Linked DNA regions of Homo sapiens: all the other regions are linked to region 3. The links come from fine-mapping of genetic effects on gene expression. A gene starts in region 3. Each other region holds a variant in brackets. All regions are shown on one strand. Distances are between the middles of the regions.

The links.
Region 1: its variant is fine-mapped to the expression of NBN in whole blood (TOPMed, PIP 0.94).
Region 2: its variant is fine-mapped to the expression of NBN in esophagus muscle (GTEx, PIP 0.97).

Annotation. Positions count from the first base shown.
Region 1 is chr8:90,002,612-90,010,894 of GRCh38, reverse strand. All of the region lies in intron 1 of DECR1 (2,4-dienoyl-CoA reductase 1), which reads right to left. Among named protein-coding and RNA genes, the nearest start is that of DECR1, 5.3 kb to the right of the region's middle. RefSeq lists enhancers at 4,750-4,809, 4,970-5,279. The variant T/C (reference allele first, on the strand shown) is at 4,909.
Region 2 is chr8:89,958,069-89,966,068 of GRCh38, reverse strand. NBN (nibrin) reads left to right here. Exons shown (of 16, transcript NM_002485.5): 8 at 1,562-1,659; 9 at 7,215-7,344. Among named protein-coding and RNA genes, the nearest start is that of NBN, 23 kb to the left of the region's middle. The variant T/C (reference allele first, on the strand shown) is at 4,559.
Region 3 is chr8:89,979,937-89,988,190 of GRCh38, reverse strand. NBN (nibrin) reads left to right here and starts at 3,524. Exons shown (of 16, transcript NM_002485.5): 1 at 3,524-3,666; 2 at 5,336-5,469; 3 at 6,668-6,816; 4 at 7,298-7,457. The coding sequence starts at 3,630. RefSeq lists enhancers at 3,164-3,960, 4,092-4,431 and a silencer at 3,772-3,971.

The sequences.
Region 1 (8,283 bases), 23 kb before region 3:
AAGTACGTAGAGGAAAACAGAGCAAGAAAAAAAATGGCCTAGAATCAATTTCATGATAAGGACATATACCTTACTTGAAGCATAACTACTCTATATTAAACACTAAAGTGTGAGCTATATTTATAAAGATAATGAAATATTTCCACATCTATTTTCTTGGAGCTTCTACGTATCTGTTGGTTCAGGTTGAATCAATATTTTTTAGATCAAATTTACTCCAACTGGAATTCACATAAGAGTTTTGCAGACTGGGCCCTAACTGCCATATTAAACTATCAGCGTGGTAAACACTGGACAACCATATTTTTCAAAGGATGAGTTTCAAAAGTGTACATCTTTGCATTCCCAAAACACCTTATGTACTCCCTGAATACAGGAAGCCTTCCATAACTACTTCCCAATTTATTTTGTCCGATTGCTAGAAGGCCATGCGTGCATTCTTTCCAATGGCCACACCACTGCCACTTCAGCACAGTGTATGTGGTCCTTAGCTGGAGGTATCTGGTAATACAAGGGATAGTTTGGTGGGATGTTCTACTGGATGTTCCAGTGCAGAAAAGGACAGCCTTGCAGAATGAAGAACTGTCTCACCCCAAATGCCAACAGTTGCCCTGCAGACATTAAAATAACTGAGTACCACACCAAAAGCTTGCCACAGGCCTCGTTAACTCATGCTCCATGACTGTGTAGATTGCTTAAGCACATCTGCCTGCTCCTTAACTTATAGCAGGGCACTGAACAGAGGCCACTGATATTCTCAGCTTCCGCAGAGCACAGATCTTGTTGCCACAGCAACCTGAAGGTAAGGCTAAACAAATATAAAAGAAACTGCCCAGCTGGACTCCAAGCTCCAATGGCTAAGCTGAATTATGCAGTTGCCAGGAGCAAGACAGAAATTACATTTTTGAGGAATGATACATTTTGTATCAGTGAACATGAGTCCTTGAAAATGTCGGTGCTCTATGCCATAGGGTGTACATCTCATTTTATTACAGTGGTTATCTGTCTGCAGTTAGATGCAGACTGAACAGATGCTTCTCCAATACAACAAAATAAAAAGAGATGAAATCACAGACCTAAGAGGCAATTTGAAATTTTCAGCTAGGGTCTTCACTCCTGCCTGCCTCTGATTTGAGTCATCTCTTATTGATCCCCTATCATGTTAACCAAAACTATAATGACAATCTTTTTTAAACCAAAAATTAGAATCTCTGCTCTTGCAAAGAGTTTGTTTTGGGAATTTGCTTACATAAAAAAGTATTAGGGATAAACATGACATTATGATGGATATAGAGTTTATTCATTTATTCATTTTAAGCAAGTGTTTATTGAGCATATATTAAGCCCCAGGCACTGTTCTAGGCATGGCAGTACGGCAGTAAAAAAAAAAAACAGACACAATATTCTATTCTCAGCAAGATTATCCTTGGGGGAATGAGGGATAAAGAAATTAAGTTAAATATGTAGTATATTAAAAGTTGATATGTAGTGTGGGGAAAAAATAAGGCAGAGAATAGGGATAGAGCATTGCTACTTTAAATAGAGTCATCAGCAAAGGCCTCATTGAGAAGGTGACATTGGAGCAAAGACGTGAAGGAGAAGAATGAATCACAGGGTTTTAGGCAAAAGGGATTGGGAGCAAAGGCCCTAAGCAGGGGGCATGCTTATGGATGGGGTAACAGTCAGGAAGCCAGTGTGGCTGGAGAAGAAGGAAGGAGGGAGACAGGGGCAGGAGAAGAGGTCAGTGAGGTAAAGGGGACTGGACCATGCAGGCTGAGTCAGCCACTACGGAGACTTAGGCTTTTACTCTGAGGCAAGTGGGAAACATCTTCTAAGTTTTAAGGAGAGAATGGACATGATCTGCCTTAAGTTTTAAGGGGATTGTTCTGGCTGCCATGGAGTGTAGAGGGCAAGGTTGGAAGCAGGGAAACTATTAGGACACTTGTATAACAAGCCAGGCAAGAGATGGTGATGCTTAGCCCAGGATGCTATCATGTGAACTGGTGGGAAGTTAGCAAATAAAACTACTTGCAAGAGCAAAGGTCCCAAAAAATGAGGACGTAATGAGTCACCACTGTACCTAATATCGCCTGGTCCAATTATTTCTTCTTTTTCTTAATGTTTTATTAATACATAACATTTTAACCTATTTATGGGGTACATGTGATATTTTATTCCATGCATAGAATGTGTAATGATCAAGTCAGGATATTTAAGATATCCACTAGATCCATGATTTCTTCTTGCCTCTTGCCCAACAACATGAGCTTGGACTTTTGTTCTTGATCTATTTCATCACATTTTTGCCTGTTTCATTAACAGCATATAAACAGGTCTCCTGTTTACTGAAAAGAACTGAGAGAGATTTTTCTACCTCTCTCATCTTTACCTCAATATCCCTGTTACATCTGCACTGCCTTTGTGTTCTAGAAAAATTAAGATTTAAATGTGAGCCAGAAAAAAGGAAATGGAGACTCATCAGACAGAAGTCATTAAGTGTACATGAGAGATACCGAGGGCAGTAGAAATTAAGAGAAGACAACATATTCCACACACATTTAACATGTAAATTAGCCTGAACCCAGAACCCAACCAGCCAGACCTGGCAAGTAAGGTGAGAGCTGTGGAAGGTAACTGAGTTCTAGTTTTAAGTGGCTGCATGCAGAGTGATGCTCTGACTGAAATGACTGGGTTGACATGAGAAGACCAAGTTGGAGCATTGAGGATAATGAGTTCTGCATCAGAAATGCTGCACTTGGGATGCTTCTGGAATAGTCAGGTAGAGATATCTAAGCTGCAGTAGGAAATATGGTTTTGAAGCATGAAGAATAAATTAGGGCTAAAGGTAAATGGCAACATCATTTCATCATTCCAGCAATTATGAAAGCCTACAGTTCTATCACTGCTTTTATGTTACAATGCAGTGTGAGGGTTTCCCAGACTGGAAGGGATAAAAGTGCAGTTGACCTTGTATTCTAGACTTACTTATCATTACCCTGGCACTTCAATCTCAGAATGATTCATCAACTTAGGAAGAGAAGAGCGCAGGACAGCTGAGAATGCTGATCATTTTCTACCTAGAATTTTCTGCAAAAACTAAAAGTTGCTAAACATCTATTGCATGCTTTCTACCATGGGCTGTAAGAAACTCTGGATAACTTTAAAATTCCCCCCTCTTTTGATGTCATTATCATGACCTTTGGGAGATATCTGAGATCTAGATTATTTTTTGTAATAATATAAAGTTTGCTTTGTAGTTTGGGCAGGAAGTTTGTTTGAAATTTCTTCAAATGCATCCTTAAGCTACAAGGCCAAGATTCATCCATTAACCCCACCCCCACCACCTGCCCTGCCCTGCCCCACCTTGGTGACTCCCTCTCCTCTTCACCTGATACATCCCATCCGTCTATAAGCCCCATGCCTTTTACCTCCCCAGTGTCCCTCTATATCCACCACCTGATTTCAAACCCCTATCTCACAACATTCACAAACATTGGGGGCCTATTCTGTGTCATCTTTTAACTGATCTTCCGAGGACTGCTAATGGGATCATGTTACTTCTCTTCTTAAGATCTTCTAAGGGCTCCTGGTAGCTGCAGAATATCCAGATTCCTTCGCTCCCCATAGCATATGTCTTCACGACCTAGCTCCTGTCCCTCTCTTCTGCCTCATCTCCCCTGAAATTTACACTCAGGAAAACAAAGTACTCAGGATTCCCCAAACATGAACTCTTTCCTACTTTCCTGTCTTTACACAAATTGCTCCCTATCATCACCCAACATTCATCATTGAAACCCAGCTGTGAGAGCTCTGGTGCTTTCCCTAACACTCCCAGGGAGAATTAACATTCTCTCCTCTACTTCTGTAGCTTATTTATCTATATACCACTTGAGGAGTCCCAGACCCTACTGACATTTCAGGACTGATGTCACTTACTCCTCTTCTCCCTCCAGCCCCCACTTAATGTCCTCACTCAAGAGAGTGGCACTGTCCTTAGCTCAGGGGCCAAAGACAGAAATCTGGGCTTCATCTTACCCCATACATTCAAACCAAGCCCAGTTCGTTTTAGTCCCCAGTAGCTCTAATGCTATCCTCAGTTCAGACCCTCATCACTGGTGTTTGGATGTTTGGTCTCCCTACTTCCAGTCTTACCTGATGATATCGTATTTCTGCTCACAATTTTGATGGCAACATGTCACCACTGAGCATAGCCCCATCTCTCATCCTCACCACCAACCAATCACCAAGGCCTCTGATTTTACCTCCTAAATATCACTCAACTTTGAGTGTCTCCAAACCCAATGCATGCCCTCGTTGAGGCCACCATCACCTCTCAACAGATGAGAGGATTACTCAGGGTTTAGCCATTTGTCTCCACTCCCACCCTGCAGGACAAAGTTCTAACTCTTTAACGCAGCCAACAGGCTGCTCACTAAGCTGTCTCTCACCTCCTGCCTCCCCACTCTCTGTTGATAACCTTTATGCTGGGCCTTCACATAGACTACTCTCCTGTTTAAAACATTCTTACATCTCTCCCTTTGGCTAACTCCTACTCATCTTTCAGGTCTCAGCTTTGATATATACCAAACAACAACACTCTCATAAAACTGGACATACCTCCCCCATGAGCAGGAGATGCTTCTTCCCCAGTCCTGACATCTCCCTACTGTGAGAAGTTCAGGTAGTACAACTCCAGGCTTCTTTCTGTCCCCTTAGTCAACCTGCTAAGGATGTTTGGATGTTTGTCCCTTGAAAACTCATGTTGAAATGTGATCCCCAATGTTGGAGGTGGGGTCTAATGGGAGGTGCCTGGGTTATGGTGGCAGATCCATCATGAATGTCGTAGTACCATCTTCATCCTGGCAGTGGCAAGTGAGTTTGCACTCTATTAGTTCCCACTAAAGCAGG[T/C]TGTGAAAGAACCTGGCACCTCCCAACACCCTCTCACTTCCTCTCTTGCCGGCACCTCCCAACACCCTCTCACTTCCTCTCTTGCCGGCACCTCCCAACACCCCCTCACTTCCATCTCTGCAAACTCCAGCTCCCCTTCACCTTCTGCCACAAGTGCAAGCAGCCTTAGGCCGTCACCAGATGCAGATGCCCAGTCTTGAACTTGTCCAGGCATCAGAATCATGAGTCAAACAAACCCTTTTCTTTATAAATTACCCAGCCTCAGGTATTCCTTTATAGCAACACAGACTGAGGTACAATCTGTCTGTGCAGAGACAGTTGATATGACTGGTAAATTTTGACAGGATCGTTGGGTATGAACAGTTCTCCTTGGTCTTCTTCCTTTTGGGAGCCAGCTGCCTTCAGAGGACAATGTTCTGCCCTCCTCCAGAGTTATGTAAGTCCGCCTACTTCGGGAGATCCAGCTGATAGGCCCAGCTTCCTCTCACAAACCACAATAAAAGTGATACTTTGGCTTCCATCTTTACTCATTTTTCAGACTGGAAAAAACGGATGCTATTTATTTGGGATCCCATCCAAAAGCAAGAACACCCAACCTAACATGCGGCACATCATACCATAATGCCATTGGACTCTATGCTTCTTGACAGCAGGAATCAGCTCTTCTTCTCACCTTCATATCCCTAGTAAGGTGCCTAGCAAATAGTAAATGCTCAATTTTCTACATAAATAAGAAAAGCCCACCATACCCTGTCCCCCAGCAACCTGACTGATCTCGTCTCCACACGCTTCTCTCTGTTCCCATACTTCACCAACTCCACAATACCAAACAAACCACTTGAATTTTTATAAATAAGCCACTCTTTCACTTCTTGATACATGCTATTCCTTAGGTCTATATTGCCATTGGGACCACACAAATTCCAACTCCTGATTTAACAGCAGGCTCCTGGGGCCACCTCCTCCATGAAGCTTTCCTTGCCTCCTCTAGGTATGTACAGTTTGGGTCATATATGCATTATAATACACATCTGCATCTTCACAGTCTATTGATGTCTGCTGGTGACTCACTAGACTATCATTTTTCAGATTTTTCTGACTGTGAACCATAGCAAGAAATGTGATTTATATAGCAACATACACATGTTCATAGCAACACAGTACACACGTTCATTCATGTAACAGATATTTGTTACATGTTTACTCTATGCTAAGCACTGTTCTAGGTATAAACAGTGGACAAAACAGTTGAAAATCTTTGCCTGCATAGAGCTTATATTCCAGAATTTTACACTGAATAAAGAAATACTTAGGCTTCCAGATTTAAAAAAAATAAAGAAAACACATCTAGTTGGTTTTATACTGCTCCAAGACAATATTCATCGTGAGAAAACAATGAAACAATGTTGACTAAGGGAAAATGTGACATCCAAGTAAAATTATGCCTATCCATCCTTTTACCAGAACAGATGCCTGGAATGATATACACCAAATGCTAACCCAAGTTAATTCTAGGTGGCCAGTTTGAGGTCATATCTTACTTTGTTAACTGTATTGCTGAATATTGGCCAGGAATCATTTTTCTAAAAATAGTGATTTTACTCTTGATAGTTACTATTCTTTTTTTTTTTTTTCTTTTTGAGATAGAATCTCACTTTGTTGCCCAGGCTGGAGTGCAATGGCGTGATCTTGGCTCACTGCAACCTCTGCCTCCTAGGTTCAAGTGATTCTCCTGCCTCAGCCTCCTGAGTAGCTCCTGCCTCAGCCTCCTGAGTAGCTGGGATTACAGGCACGCGCCACCACGCCCGGCTAATTTTTATATTTTCAGTAGAGACAGGGTTTCACCATGTTGATCAGGTTGGATAGTTATTACTCTTGATAAAAACAAAAGGAAAAGAAACATGGCAGTGTGCATGATAGTAATCAAAGAATGAATCAAAAAAGGAAGAATGGTAAATTTTTTTTTTAAAGTTTCACAAAATGAACAACCTTACTACATGAGATGAATTTAGATATATCCTATTCTATTCCATTTTTTTGTTTTTGAGATGGAGTCTCACTCACTCTATCGCCAGGTTGGACTACAGTGGCGCGACCTCAGCTCACTGCAACCTCTGCCTCCCAGGTTAAAGCGATTCTCCTGCCTCAGCCTCCCAAGTAGCTGGGACTACAGGCGTGTGAAACCACACCCAGTAATTTTTGTATTTTTACTAGAGACAGGGTTTCACCATGTTGGCCAGGATAGTCTTGATCTCTTGATCTAATGATCCACCCGCCTCAGCCTCCCAAAGTGCTGTTTTGCTCCACTAAATTGATTTCAAGGCCTACTCATTGGTTATTATTTGTGGCTTAAAATACATATATGAGACTATAGTACATTGAAGGCAGGAATGTCTTTCAACCACAAATTGCCAAAGAATGCCCAATACTTAATAGGTACTTAATTAATTAGTGTTTCCTCATAAACAACTGAATGACTGAATGTTTTCCTCAATAGAACTGAGAGCAACTTGAGAACAGTTGAGAGCAGGGCTCGTATTTTTTAAATTTTGAGTCCCAGGGCATAGCACAGGGCCAGACATAAAGCCAGTCCTCAATAAATATTTATTAAATTGAAATGAGGCCTATTAGCCAGCAGCACAATTTAACACAGCACTTCACAAACAGGTTTTATAACAAATTAAACATTTGCCTTGGTTCTTGGTAACAAAAATATTCAAATTAGGGGTTTTAATTATAACAACTTGTATTTGCCCACAAAAACATGATGTTCCCTGGAACAACCTCCCACATCACAGATGTAAAGACTTTTCTTCTCCCAGGAATTCAAACTTGAGGCTACATGTGCTAGGAAGGGGACAAACCACACTAACAGGTACCTCTCTTGCCTCCCAACCCTGAACCTCAAAACTTCCATATTTTTCTTCAGCAAAGGAATTTCAAAATTGTCAGATTACAATTAATTTTTAAATGAGTTCATTTTCTCCTTCTCAAACTGTATTGTCTAATGGTGTCAGAAGAGCTTGGATAAGGTCTGTATGACCTTATTGCTACAATCCTAATGATGTGTGTTAAAAAATGAAATCTCTGAAGACATCACAGAGCTGTTGTAGATTTCAAATGAGAAATGTCTCTGAAAAGTATCAGAAAATATGGGCTTCCTTTATAATGATCTATAACCCAGTTTTCACAGGGAGAGAAAAAAAATCAGCAAAACCCTAACCCTGAACAAATCTCACTTTTTAAAAGAAAGATACCTTACTTGAGGGAACCACCATACTAATTCTTTGTATTCCTATTTGGAACTACTGCTGCCCATATTTTTTGAAAAACAACACCATGGCTGTCTATTCTATCAAATCAAAAGAAGTTTTT
Region 2 (8,000 bases), 22 kb after region 3:
AAAATGTTTCTATTTTATGTAACCATTCTTTATAACTAATTCACATAGTATAAGTTATAGTTGCAAAAGTTAGTAAATAAAATACCAGTTTTGAATTACCTAAATTACAGGTAGGTATATGTGATCACTTGATTATAAAGGTTTTTTAGATTTTATTTTTTTAGTCTGATACTTTAATTGCACGTATAACTGAATCCTATTTAAGTAAGCTCAGTACACACAAAAAGACACATTAAGCATTTCAAAAAGACCTTACGAACTAACCATTTAAAATATCTTGACTGAGCAAGGTGGTTCACGCCTGTAATCCCAGCACTTTGGGAGGCCGAGGAGGGTGGATCACTTGAGGCCAGGAGTTCGATACCAGCCTGGCCAGCGTAGTGAAACCCCATCTCTACTAAAAATACAAAAATTAGCTGGGTGTGTTGGTGCGCGCCTGTGGTTCCAGCTACTTGGGAAGCTCAGGGCACAAGAATTGCCTGAACCTGGGAGGCAGAGGTTGCAGTGAGCCATGGTTGCACCACTGCTCTCCAGCCTGGGTGAAAGAGCAAGTCTCTGTCTCAGAAAAAAAAAAAAAAATCTTTACAATGAGTATTGAAGACATTTTGTAGTTGTTTGTTAAAATTTGAGGTGTAATTTTTATATGATATTAAATGGTGTATTTTTGTTTTTATAAAATCAGTCATTGACCTTACAGAACAACAAAAAATAGGTTCACCATAAGATTCCTTTAATGTGAAGATACCTTAATACTTGTAAATTTGGCAAAATGATTTGATTTACTAAAAGTTGTAACACATGTATAGATATACCTTAGGTATAGTTCTGTCTACTTCTCTCCGTCCTTCCTCTCTCTCTTCTTTTTTTCTTCTCTTTGAAGTTTCATCTTAGGCTCATAGTATCCGTAGATTTGTTTGTAAAAGCCTGTGGTGATTTTTTTTAATTTTTTTTTTTTGAGACGGAGTCTCGCTTTGTCATCCAGGCTGGAGTGCAGTGGCGCGATCTCAGCTTACTGCAACCTCCACCTCATAAGTTCAGGCGATTCTCTTGCCTCAGCCTTTTGAGTAGCTAGGATTACAAGCGTGCACCACTACACCCAGCTAATTTTTGTATTTTTAGTAGAGATGAGGTTTTACCATGTTGGCCAGGCTGGTCTCAAACTCCTGACCTCAAGTGATCCACCCGCCTCAGCCTCCCAAAGTGCTGGGATTACAGGCATGAACCACCATGCCTGGCCATAAAAGCCTGTTCTGTTGTTTAATTTGGGTAGTACTGTATTCTTTTTATTCCAAAAATTGTAGAATTTTAGAACTGGGAAGATCTATATTCTTTAGCCCCTTATTTTACAGATGAAGTTAATGGAGTTACTAAAAGATGGTAGACTTGTCAACGTAACAGTGCCCCAGCGAGTAAGCTATTATAGTACTCTGCATTTGAAATTCTGTCTATACCATAAAATTATTTGGGAGGAAAAAAAAGAGGTTGCTTTATCTTGACATTATCTGAATAAAAGTTGCTAGTTTTAATATATTATCATACTTAAACTATTTTATTCTAATAGGCAAGGTCTTAGACCTATTCCTGAAGCAGAAATTGGATTGGCGGTGATTTTCATGACTACAAAGAATTACTGTGATCCTCAGGGCCATCCCAGTACAGGTAATTGAAGCATTATTTTATTGATTCGTTAGCAACTTTATTATGTAAATCGATAAGCTAAATATACGTTACTCATATACTTGCTAGGGGTGACCATATTCACCATGTTTTAAAATTCATCCATTTATACTTTCATTTATTCATTCCATAAATATTTGTGGCTGCCATGTAGCAGAAACTGTTATGAAGTGGTAAATAAAATAAGAAAGATCCTTGTTATTATAAACTTTATGTTCTGAAGATCAAGATTTAGTAACCAAACACACACACATGGTAAGTTCAGATCAAGCCAAGTATAAAGACAGGTAAAACAAGGTGATGTATGTAATAGTGATGGTAGTAGGCTATTTAGATAGGTATTCAAGGAAAGTCTCAGGAGGTGACATTTGAGCCATGTGTCCTGAATGATGGGAAAAGGCAGCTGTGTGAGGATCTGGGTGGTGGATAATTCCAGGTAGAAGGAACAGATCACTCTTAGGTTTGTGTGGAGAATTCTAAGGGTCGACAGTGTAAGAGGAGATGTGAATAGAATGCTATTGTGGAAATCTGGATGTGAAAGAGCCTGATGCCTTGGACCAGCATGGTAATAGTAGAGATGCAGAAAAATGAACAGGTTCAGGATATATTTTAGAACTAGACCTGGTGGGACTTTCCGGTGGAGCAGTTAGAAACAACTCCTAGTTTCCTAGCATAAGTAACTGGGTGGATGGTGGTGCCATTTACTGAGATGAAGAATGTGCATTATAATAATCTCAGTGTTAATCATGAAAGCCAATGTATTCAGAGACAGTCACTGTTTCCCCTTTATTAGTTAAAACACATTTCCATAGTTTTTAAAAAAATTTTTTAGTAAGTTGTTGTAAAAATGGTTTATTTCTTTTCTTCTTGCTTTTTTACCTTGGAGATTTTTACATTTATTCTCTCTACTAACTTTTATCTAATTTGCCTAGCTCTCAGAGCATCCATTCTGTATTCCTTATATATTTATTTGCTCCCTGGATTTGTTGTGTAGTTATTTCATCAGCAGCTATTGAACTTGGGCTAAAAGAGACAAGTTAGAGAACAGCACTACCAGATTGCACACTCCGGGGAGCATCATTCACTGTAGTCCATTGAATGGCAACTATGGAGTCAGTCCGTGTATCTCCTGAGTGCTCTGCAACCTTGGTTTAAACAAGTAAGGAATGTGCTAAGCTAAATTTTGGAAGGAGTTAGCCATTACGGCCTAATGACCAGGAAGCTATTAGGTATGTAGATCGTTAGTAACCATGCATAGTAATAATAACTGCTGTCTCTGGAGTGTGCAGAGACTAGAGTAAGCACTTTACCATCATCAAACTTTAATCTGCAAAACAGTCCTTATAAGATAGAGGGAAGAGCATCATCTACTTTTCGTAGATGAGGGAACTGACGGACAGAGAGGAAATTAGCTGGAGGTCACATAGCAAGTAATTGGTTCAAGCTGAGTCTTAAAGCTGTTACGACATCACATTGCAGTACAAATGGCTTATATTTTAATGTGTGACGTTTTGAGAAATGGTGGTGTAGGGATGATTGGGAGCTGATGCAAAAGCATAGACATCTGATAAAATTTGACAGGCTAGTATTTTATTATTTGGATAAGAATGTTTATTCAGCTGACATCTCTACCCTGTCCCATTGAGTATACTACATATGTTTGTGTCTGTACATAGGTAACCTTCAAATACACACAGTCGTAAGTTCTTGTGAAGTTTTAAATATAACCAAATCACTTATTTTGGTGGAATCGTGATATGATTAATATTTTCACCAAATTCCCAGAATTCATCCATAAAGTAAAAAGCTAAAGACCAACTCTTCAGGCTCTTGGCAAGGGAACTTTTTAAATGTGGATGCCAAAGAGAGCCATATTCTTGGAGAAACTACTGCTTCCTTGTCTACTAGAAATATGCTCAACTTTTAGAACTAGCAGGTGCTGTAGATATTATTTTGTTGATAGATTTCTGTTCTCTTACAGAAAAAAGATCAGTATCAGTAATTTTAGACTTTAATTACAACAAACATATAAAAACGGTGATTAGGTCTAAGTCAGTAGCTCCCCTTGTCTCAGCACCCATTTGGGGTCACTGTCCTGTGTTTCTCTGTTTAGAAAATCAATTCTCAACTAGATATATGCTTCAGAAACAATTCTGAATACAAACGTACATTGTCCATGATTCAGAACATTCTGGGATGCATCCTAGACATCTGAGTTTTTTGGTTGGTTTTGTTTGATTTTTAAGCTCCTGTTTCCTATACAAACTCTAGAAACCACTAAATTAGAATAGTCTTGAGAAGAAATGAACTAGAGAGGAGTCTTCTTTTATATAAAAAGAAGAAGCACTCAGACTGGAAACTTTGGACATTTTTTATTCTTCCTTTTCCATTTTATCACCAAGACCTGAAATTCTCACTCTACAGCTTCTGCTCAAGAGGTCTGTGACTGTCCCCTTCTCACAGCCAGTACCCTGTTTGAACCCTCTACATCCTTCTCTCTGGAGTGCTGGTTGTATTAGTAATTGCCCTAGTAATGGTCCTTACTCCAGACTCATCTCTACAGTTAATATTTCACTATGCCACTATTCAATTACCTTCTCTTTTCTCAAAAATTTTAACTAGCTCTTATTATCCACAGAATAAATCTCCAAGCCCTTTGTCTAGACTTCTGAGTCCTCAGTAGTTTAGCTGCAGCCTTCCTCCTCCCGACCTCGCCTTTTTTACATAGTTTCTCTACAGAATATGTGTGCCATATTTTTTATAGTTCCCACACTTCCTCACCTTGAACATCATGTTCCATTCCTAGAATGTTCAGTACTGCTCGTCAAAATCTGACTCATTCTACAAATGATTACCTCCTTCGTAAGGCTCTTCTAAATTG[T/C]TTTCACTCCCAACTCCTCCAAGTCAGATGTAATTATTCTGTTTCTATGCTCAGTAGCTTTTTTGCATTCCAGCCGGAGTTTCTTCCTACTTTGGATATAACCAGTTGTTTCCACACCTCTTTCAGCCACTGAGTAGATTGTAGGCTCTTACTAATTTGGGATCCCCTAACAGCAGCAAGCACGGTACTTGTTTGTAATAGGTATAAATATTTTGCGTAATTGAACTAAGCTATTGGTACACAAGATTATGTTTTCCAGTGTGGAGCAACAAAATATTGTCACCCACTGTTGAAATTGTGTTTATAGCTGAAAGGGCCTTAGAGATCATCTAATCGTTCTATTAAAAGATAAGGTATACCAAGGCTGAGAAAAGTTAAGGTACATAACTACTTCATGGCCAAGCCAGTTCTAAAATTTGGTTTTCTGACTACCAGACTGGTGCTTTTTTCTGATGTATTATTTCCTACAGAAACAAAGTCATGAGAGTGAATTAAAAAGTACACTGTATGTAGTATTACTTCTTGCATATTTTCGTAGGTAGGTTTAGGTGGGTTCCAAGTCATAGTCCTCTGATAATAAAATAATTTTATAGCACAACCAACTTTGGGGGAACAGAGTGAATGAGTCTCCCTTTTCTCTCCTCCTTCCTTTGTTTTTATATTCACTCTTTTGTTATTCAACAAATACTTATTGAACATTTGTTATATACCTGTATTATGGCAAGCACTTGAAATAAAGAGGTGAATAGATGAGACCAAGTTCCTGCCCTTATGGTATTTTTAACAAGGAGAAAATTGTAAGTAATCTGTTAACAAACACCAGTTATTTTGGGTCATTAGCTTATTATTATTATTATTATTTCATAAAGTCTTGCTCTGTCACCCAGGCTGGAGTACAGTGGCATGATCATAACTCACGCAGCCTTGAACTCCTCGGCCCAAGCAATCCTCCTGCCTCACCCTCCTGAGTAGCTGGGACTATAGGTGTGCACCACCATGCCCAGCTAATTTTTAAATTTTTTTGTTGAGATGAAGTCTCACTATGTTGACCAGGTTGGTCTCTTAACTCCTGGCCTCAAGCAGTCCTCTTGCCTCATCCTCCCAAAGTGCTGAGCAGCAGCGAGCCACCTCACCGAGCCTACATTAAATTATTCAGTGATGATATGAACATTTATAATTTTTACTCTTTCCAAACTTATGTGCAGCTGAAAATGAATTCTAGAGATATGTGTCTTAAAGGAAATGCCAGTGAGCTTCTAGAGGTCACATAGAGAAAGTGGCGGAAGTCATTTAAATATCTGAATTTAGAATTAGTAGTAAATATTAAGCACATCCTGTGTCACAAGGACCTAGCAGAATGATAATTTAGCTTAGGTGTTTAGTAAATATCAACTTAAAATTTTTTTCAGTTAATAGTGTAAACTTTTTTTACATCTACTCTATACCAAATATTGCTCTAGGTACTGGTGATACAGAAATACACAAGACTTAGTCCTTATTCTCAAGGATACACCAGTCTAACAAGGGAAAGTAGCAAGTAAACAAGTGATGATAATGATAACAGCTAATGCTGGCACAGTGCTTACTATGTTCCAAGCATTTTTCTAGGGGCTATTTTACCCTCCAAACAACTTTGTGAGGCAGATGTTATAATTATTCTCATTTTATAGATGAGGAAAGGGAAGCATAGAGAAGTTAAATAACTTGACACAGGTCACTCAGCTAGTCATAAGTGAATTTTGTTTATTGCTTTTTTGTTGTTGTTTTTTGAGATAGGGTCTTAGGCTGGAGTGCCATGGCACAATCACTGCTCACTGCAGCCTTGACCTCCTGGGCTCAAGTGATCCTCCCACTTTAGCCTCCTGAGTAGCTTGGACTGCAGGTGTGTGCCACCATGCCTGGCAAGTTTTTTTTAATTTTTGTAGAGATGGGGTCTCCCAGTGTTGCCCAGGCTGGGCTCAAACTCCTGGGCTCAAGTGATCCTCCTGCCTCAGCCTTCCAAAGTGCTGGGATAACAGGCGTGAACCACTGCACCTGGCTTGAATTGTTATTAGAATGATTTGCGTGGTGGTATGGAAGGAGAATTGGAGAGCACTTAATTCAGTGTGGGAGATTCAAAAAAAGTATTCCAGAAGAGCAGCACTTGAACTAAGTTGTTCTTCTGGTAAGTAAAAAGATGAGGTAATCATTATGGTTTTCTGGAGTAGCCAGAAGTTTATGTCTAAGATGGTTTTACATGATTTGTTTCAAATAATGTATTCCTTATGAAAATAAAACTCACTAATTCTGATTTCTATAGATGGTAGGGTGTATACACTTTCTGTGGGGGAATAAATGTAATTTTTTGGCCCACTGACTTAAAACATAATTTGAATTAGAATTTGCTTATTTTATTTTTCTTTCAGTTGATAAGACTTCAGCACAAAGTATCTGATGTGGCTTTAAAATGATTTGGTTTAGATAAGCCCGTCATAGATGCCCGCAGGCTGCTTATAGACTGTTTTGTGTTTGTTGGTACCACTCATTGGAGAAAACCATGTGCAGTATTCCCTAGTTAATCCCCTCAGCATGGTATAGTCTAACAATTTTAAGTGACCAGATGTTCATCTTCTATCTAGCAGTTGTGATTCTTTCTTTCTACTTGTGTGATTTACAGGATTAAAGACAACAACTCCAGGACCAAGCCTTTCACAAGGCGTGTCAGTTGATGAAAAACTAATGCCAAGCGCCCCAGTGAACACTACAACATACGTAGCTGACACAGAATCAGAGCAAGCAGATACATGGTAAAGCTTCTTCATTACCGTACTATTGTTATTATTCTATCAATAAATTAATAGTATATTCAGGAAGTAATGCCCTTTATCAGGTTGTCTCTTGAGAGAGAAAGCATGGAAGAATGGGATACCAGGGAAAATGATATCTTAGGACAAGGGTCAGCAGGTTTTCTGTAAAGGAGCGGCGAGTAGTTATTTTCGGCTTTGAAGACTGTTGATCTCTGTCCCAGCTCCTCCACTCTGCCACTGTAGCATGAAAGTGGCCATAGACGATATGTAGTCATTGTCAAGAGACAATACGTAGTCTCTTAAAGACAAGGATACTTTCCAAGAAATGCTTCCTTACACAATTTTGGCATTGTGTGAACATCGAACAGTGTGTTGACATAAACCTACATGGTATAGCGTACTGTATAGTATAGATAGCCCAGGGGTTCCTTATCTCTCAGCCACGGTATCAGTCCATCACCTGTTAGGAACCAGGCCACACAGCAGTAGGTGATCAGCGGGCAAGCTAGCAAAGCTTCATCTTTATTTGCAGCTGCTCCCATTGCTTGCATTACCGCCTGAGCTCCACCTCCTGTCAGATCAGCGGTAGCATTAGATTCTCATAGGAGCACAAACCCTATTGTGAGCTGTGCATGTGAGGGATCTAGGTTCTTATG
Region 3 (8,254 bases):
GAGCAGCAGCCTCAACAAAAAGTCACAGTCTCTTTCCGAATTTCCTGATTTGAGCCACTTTGCCAATCCAGAACCCATTGACTGGTGGAGAGGCAGGACTGCCAGTAAGAAGGACCCTGCAATCCCATAGCAAGAATATATGGTAATGACCTCCCCGCACCCCACCCTACTCTCAGTCTTTCCCTTAAGGGACCTATAGCCATTCGCTTGGAAAATCATACACTGAGGAAAAGAGAATGCCCAAATACTTGGAGGGCTGTGGGACATGATCATTATTGATACCCATGAACCCAAAATATTATGACTCCTGGTTAAAGCAGAGGTATTCAGAAGCCAGAGAGTTAAGGGAGTCCTTGTCCAGGTCTGGCATACAGTGGGTCCACCGAACACATAGACTTACGTGGTGGTCATTTTCCTAGTTCCCAAATATATAATTGAAATGAACATCCTTGGTAGTTCTTACAATACCCACCTCAGCTCCTTGGCCTGTAGGGTAAGAACTATCAACGCGGGCAAGGCCAACAGGGAGCAGCCTCAAATTGTACAGCCATGACAGTGAGCAAGAACAATATAGGGGAATGATAGATATTAGTGCTTTCTTTTTGGCTCCCTTTTTATCTCCATTTAATTCATCATACTTGACCTACAAAAGCCTAACAGTTCCTGGAGAATAAACAGCCGACTACTGCAATCAACAAAGTAATAACCCCAATTAGAGCTGCTGTACCAGATGTGAAATCTTTACAAGAGCAGAACAACATGACCTCAGGCAACAGGTTTGGGGTGATTGATATGATGACATGTGCTTCCCCAACCTTAACAGAAAGTAGAATCCAAAAGTGCTCATATTTAATTAGAAAAAATAATAGAAAATACTTGCAATGTTGACCCAGAGCTAAGCTGTATCTCCTTAACCTCTATCATAATGTATTCCCAAGAGACCTGAAGTGTCTGGACATGCTGCAGAACATCCACTGTTCTACTACAGTGATGGTATTATGCTCACCAGATTGGATGAGTAAGGATTTGGCAAACAGGTTGGAGGCCTTGGTGAGATATGTATACTTCAGAATGTGGAAGAAAATTCCTGCAAAATGTTGATGCTTCACTAAATCAGTGAAATTTAGGGATTCTATGATGCAGGGCATACTTTTGTGTGTCCTACTTAAGAAAGATCTGCCTACTTTGAAATCATGTTTTCTTCCACTAATATTTATTATTTTACTTTCCTATGTAAATAATGATTCATCTGGAATTTAGATGAATTCTAATTCATCTAAATGAATTAGGGGGATCAGTCTTCATTTCCTGTGTTATGTTAACACATTTCTTGTGTCACGTTAATAAACGGGATCATTTATTTGTGGGGTGGGGTGGGGTCACATGAGACTTTCCTTTGTTGCCCTGTAATCACCTTCGAAAAATCAAATTACCTTATGTGTCCACTTTTTTTAGGTCCCTCTATTCTGACTCATTTGCCTGTTTTCTATCCTTGTACCAAGCAAACACTGACTTAATAACTGTAACTTTATAATAGATCTTAGTATTTCATAATTTAAATATTCCAGCTTTGTTCTTCAAAATTGCCTTGGCTATTCTAGGCATTTGCATTTCCATATAAATGTTAGAATCTGCTCATCCATTTCTACTCAAAAAAAGCATTTGAGATTGCTGAAGTTACATTGAATCTATAGAACAATTTTGGGGGAAATGACATCTTAACAATCTGTGAACATGATCCATTATCCTTGCATTTATTTAGGACTTTTTAAACTTTCTGTCAATAATGTTATGTAGTCAATCATGTTTTGTATTACATAGTTTGATCGATGTATTACCAAGCACTCGATTATTTTGGTGCCATTATAATTAAACATGTAATTTTCTATTTATTTTCTGGAATAAAGGTATACAATTAAATTTTGTATCTAGATATTGTATCTATAACCTTATTAAATTCATTTATTAATTAAAATAGTTTGCCAACAGTTTTTTTGATTTTCAATATAGGCAATCGTGTAATTTGTGAATAATGACTGTTATTTCTTCCTTTCCAATCTGAATGTCTTTTGTTACTCTTTCTCCTTTATTGCATTGGCTAGAGCATCTAAAGCCATGCTGAAAATAAGTGGTAAGAGCGTGTACATCCTTGTTTCATTACTGATGTCATGGGGAAATGTTCAATAATTTACCTTAAGTATAACGTAAACTGTAGTTTTTTTTGTAAATGTCCTTTATCAGATCATGGATGTTTTCTCTATTCCTACTTTGCAGAGAGGTTTTTATCCTAAATGGGTGCTTAATTTTATCAATTTCTTTGCTACTATCAAGATAATCATGATTTTTCTCCTATTTAAAATTATTATGATGAATTACATTTATTTTTTCCCCCAATGTTAACCCACCCTTTTGTTTCTGGATAAATCTCACTTAGTTATGATTATTCTTTTTATACTACTACTTGATTCAATTTGCTAATATTGTGCTTAGGAGTTTGCATCTATGATGATAAGAGATTGGTAAACCAGCCTTTTTTTTTTTTTTTTTTTGAGACAGGGTCTTGCTCTATCGCCCAGGCTAGAGTGCAGTGGCATGATCATGGCTCACTGCAGCATCGAACTCCTGGGCTCAAGTGATCCTTCTGCCTCAGCCTCCTGAGTAGCTGGGAATACAGGAGCATGGCACCAAGCCCTGCTAACTTTAAAATTTTTTATAAAGACAGGGTCTTGCCATGTTGCCCATGCTGATCTTGAACTCCTGGCCTCAAGTGATCCTCCCATCTTGGCCTCCCAGACTGCTGGGATTAAAGGAGCGAGCCATGGTGCTGGGCCTAAACAAGCCTTTTTAAAGTGACTTTTCCCCCCTATTACAGAATGCTTTTGAAAGCCAAAATGTATGTGATCAGGAGTGTGCTCTCAGATGTTTATTTAGTAGTGCGCAGGATGTAGACTACATTATGTGGGACGTGGGTGGTGATGGGTTGGGAAGCTACTGGAATTAGGAGGAGAGCTTGAACCAGCTTGAGACAGGTGGAAGTGGAAAGGAAGGGTATTAAATACAGGAGACTGCCCAGTATTTAGCATGTGATTAGCTGAAAGTGTGGCATTATGAAATAAAGACGTTAAGACAAGTTGATTTGAACTTAGAAAAGAGTAAAAATAATGAGTTTACTTCGAGGTGAAATCCTTATCTTCATCATTATTATCACCATTACTAGATTCCAAAGGAATACCTGCAATTTAAGAAACTGCAAACGCACGAAACTACATAACTGGTAAGTATTTTAATGCATTTAATTAAAAATTTTCCTTATGTTGCTTTGGAGTTAGTTTTTAAAATTCTTTTCGTTCATAATCAGGAAAGGTAGTAACCTTACATTCAGCGACACCTTAGAAACATACCCTTTTAACGCAGCACATTTCAATACAGATTGTGCTGTTCCTTTTCCAACCACCAGGTGGCGGGCAAGCGCCCAAGTCGCACTCCCGCCTCATCCAAGGCAGCCTGCGTGGCTCCCGGGAGCGCGCACGTCCCGGAGCCCATGCCGACCGCAGGCGCCGTATCCGCGCTCGTCTAGCAGCCCCGGTTACGCGGTTGCACGTCGGCCCCAGCCCTGAGGAGCCGGACCGATGTGGAAACTGCTGCCCGCCGCGGGCCCGGCAGGAGGTAAGGGCAGAAGGGAAGCCTCGGGGCCTATTTTCCCGGTAGCGACTGCCTCGGGGGAGGGCCTGCGGGTGATTCCTGCGTCGCGTCCGTTCCTGCCCGGGGACGCTGCGGAAGCGGTCGCAGAAGCGGCGAGTACGCTGTATGGCAAGCGCATATTCTTCCCGGGCAGCACGGCGGCTGTGAGCTGGAATTCAGCGCGGGCGGTGGGGTGATTGCGGCGCCCCCTGGTGGCAGTCCTCCGCGCCCCTCCCCTGACTCCCCCTCCCTCCCAGCCTCACCCCCGCGCCGTTGCAGCGCTAGGGCTGGATGGCCTGCGGGTAAGCGGCAGCAGGCGCCTAGTGGGAACCCCCGGCAGGAAGTTAGCATGGGCGGACCACACGGGGGCCACACATGACTTGTGAAGAACTACTGGACAGTTTGGGGAAATGACTACCACGAAAAGGCTTACTTTCAGTTTTGTTTCAGACTCCTTTTCCACAATGTCATCAGAACAATGGGAAAAGTCGATTTTTTCCCATTCATTTCCAGCGGTGTGAAATGTGATCACATGTTAATTGGTTGCCCGTGGTGGGTGTGAAGGGTCTTGTCCTCGGGAAGTTTACATGATGATTGGCAAAGATCTATGTAGAGACTAAATGGACTGGCAGGGTAAGAGAGTATGGAGAGCGCCAAACTAAATAAATTTTATACTGTGAAGACTCACAGGTCAAGGCGTCCCTGGAGACCTGGCTCTTCTGGACTCCCTACTCTTTATCTGCCCTAATCTCCCTGCCACTCGGGTAATGAAATTATGCTCCCAGACTCAACTCCGCATGTCTCCAATATATATACTGTTACTCCAACAACTTATGATTTACAGCAATTTTAAAAGAAACTGATAACCCTTTCCCACTGATTGGAGATGTTATCTTTAAGATAAAAACAAATTTTCAAAAAATGTACACGTGCATCTTAGTCTGGACTTTGTTGCATTGGTCTGTGTTGTTTACTCATGGTCCAGTACCATACTTTTAGTTTTATGGCATATTTTGCCATCTGGTAGGGCAAGCTCCTATTATATTATTCACATTTTTCTTGATTTTTTTTTTTTTTTGAGACGGAGTCTCACTCTGTCACCGAGGCTGGAGTGCAGTGGCACTGTGTCGGCTCACTGCAACCTCCATCCCCTGGGTTCAAGCAGTTCTCTTGCTTCAGCCTCCCAAGTAGCTGGGATTACAGGCTTGAGCATCTTTTTTTATAGTTTCCTGATATTTTTGTTTATCAAGTTCCAAACATAATATTGTGATTGTTGCTAGGTAATACATTAAGTTTTTAAGTTAATTTGAGGGAACATTGACTCCTTTCAGCATTGCTTTCCCTTTAGAAAAATGATGTAGCCTTCTATCTGTTTAGATAACCTTTTTTTCTTTTTCTCTTTTTTATTGTATTTTAAATTTTGTTGTTGTTACTCCTGAAACACCATAGTTAGATAACCTTTGATAGCCTTCAGTGAGGCTTTACTGAAAACACAAGTTTGACATATGTAAAGTTGACTAACATTTGAATAACAAAGGTGTTTTATTTAATATTTGTCATACCTATATCATATACACTTACATGTATGTGTGTGTTCGTGTACATGTGTATGTGTCTATCAACTTATCTTTTTTTAAAAAAAAATTTATCTCAGGAGAACCATACAGACTTTTGACTGGCGTTGAGTACGTTGTTGGAAGGAAAAACTGTGCCATTCTGATTGAAAATGATCAGTCGATCAGCCGAAATCATGCTGTGTTAACTGCTAACTTTTCTGTAACCAACCTGGTATGTTACTAATTTTATTTCACTAGTTTCCAGTAAGGGGGTTGAAATCACAAAATATTCTCTTGGTTTGTATGTGAGAGAGAGTTCACAGGATTTGTCATTTTATAGAGCTGTGTAGACTTTTTTAATGTTAACAAAATTAAATACTTATATTGTGGCAGTGGTACCAGTGGTATTTGTTCATTTTGAGATTTGAAGTTTCTATTTCAGTAATTTACTCTTTGTTTTAGTTAGAAACTCAGAGGAAGTAGGACATAGTTATTTTTATTTGCTTACTAAACATTTATTGTTTACTATTAGTTTGGTGCAAAAGTAATTGCTGTTTTTGCCATTAGCAGTAATGTGTTTTTATGTGTCAGTAACTGTGCCAACCCTGCGAATAGAACAATGAACAGACCTTCATGACTCTGGCTCTTAAAGAGGTTATGTAGCTGTGTGGAAACGGGCATTTCTCATATAATACAAGTTTTTGCAATGGGAATTGATTTGTTTTATTAGGGAAATGCTTACTTATGCCCCACAGCTCCTTTAAATGGCTTTCAGTTTGTTTTGATCATAACCTTGGGTGATAAAAGTGCTAAAAAAAATACATAGGAATATCTGTACTCATGATAACGCTGGTGGTAATAAGAAAGATGAGCCATTATTTTAATCAAAGATTGCATATATGCGATATGAATTTCTTCAGTTTTATTTAGGTTTTGTTTCTGTTCTTTTAGGTATAGAAAAACATTTTGGAAATTTCTACAGAAAAAGTAAAATTGTTACTGTAAGTCAGAAACACTAGCCTATAACCTCGTATTCTCATGGGACTAATTTTTACAATGTGGTTTTGATACTGTAAAACAAACAAAAAAAGATCTAGGAATGAAATTGTCATGTTTTAAATGAAACAGACTGCACCAAAGCAAAAAATTCTCAAATGTGTGTGAGGGGTCAGGAGAATCCCCACTGACTTACACAAATAAAGAACATGTGTGTTCTAGGAGGGGTATTCCTGGGTTAAGAAACTTCCCTAAGGGGAAATATGAATTGTTAGTTGAGTGATCTTCCTCTCAAGGCAACCGAAGCAGTAATTGTTGTCTGCCGTGTTGGGAGGTTAGCCACCTGCCTATTGTCTTTTCTTTTGAAAACTTTTTCTCTGAGAAGTGAATGTACTGAGTGGTAAAAGACTTTAAATTATTTGCTAACTTTTCAGAGTCAAACAGATGAAATCCCTGTATTGACATTAAAAGATAATTCTAAGTATGGTACCTTTGTTAATGAGGAAAAAATGCAGAATGGCTTTTCCCGAACTTTGAAGTCGGGGGATGGTATTACTTTTGGAGTGTTTGGAAGTAAATTCAGGTAAGACATTTTAAAATTGATTTTAAAATGGACAGCTTTGTTTCAGCCAAATCCTAAAGGAAAATGATATTTCTGATTAATGAATTTAAAACAGTATAATTTAGTTCCTGCTTAGCACAGTATTGGACTCTGTGCCATGGGTGGTGAGTGCATTTTGTACATCACGGTGATGAGAGTTTGAGTGGGCCCTGAGGGACTTCATGGGAAGTTACATTTCTTCGATTCCTCATTGGTGAAGGTATAATGTTAACTTTTGGTCATTGTTTTTTCTTCATTTGGACTCAAGACTTAGGATTTGATAATTTTCTAGGTTACAAAGCTTAATGATGAGGAACTGATAATTTCATAGGTTACAAAGGGTAACAATAAATAAAAGTTACAATAACAGTATATGATGTGAGCTTAAAGTTTTAAAGTACTAAAAATTGCCATCTCTGCAACTCTGATACTATGACTTTATTTAACTTATTCTCATTTACAGAATAGAGTATGAGCCTTTGGTTGCATGCTCTTCTTGTTTAGATGTCTCTGGGAAAACTGCTTTAAATCAAGCTATATTGCAACTTGGAGGATTTACTGTAAACAATTGGACAGAAGAATGCACTCACCTTGTCATGGTATCAGTGAAAGTTACCATTAAAGTAGGTTGAATGTCTTGTTCTTATGTTAAAAATAAGTTATTTGAATTTAAGCTTACCCACTATACACAGATTTTTTTTTAATTACTTTAAAACTATCAGAACTGTTAGTTGTAGATTTATATATACCCACTCCATCCCTTTGTATACCATTTAGGCTTGAGTGGCTTTTCATATAACCTGTTTATTATCTGAGACAAGCCAAAAGCAACTAAAATTATATTTCAGATTTTGTTTAGCATTTTAAAAAGCGATTCTGTTGTCCTTCCACCGAGAAGGTTATGACAGTGCATACTTTGTGTTTTCAGTCTTAAAGCAACGCAACTAGAGATTAACTGCCAGTCTTCAAAGTTTGCATCTCATGTCTTTCTATCAAGTTGTCTTTCTCCAATCTCCAGGTGATTCATCTCCTTTTAAACAGGTTGACCTATAGATTTGTGGGATCCTTTTAGGTTAATATCTATAGTAAAAAGCCACAAATACTTAGATTCCTTTATTAAAAATCCTTTAGTATTTAATATAATTAAACTAGAATTATGTTTTATAGCTAAAGAGTTATCGTGGAGAAAGGCTTGCCGCTCAGCTGGAACTCAACTTGTACTTTGGTGGGGTTGTCTGTAATCAAGGGTTTTTTTATTTTTGCACATTTATGAAATTGATTTTATAAATTCAGCAGTGTGATTAGCCTCCAGAGTACTAATATATGCATATAAACTTACAAATAGTAGATTTACAAATCAAAGTGTCCATTTATGGTTTTCAGTAGGGATGCACCTTTACCAGAATATTTAAGTGTGGGC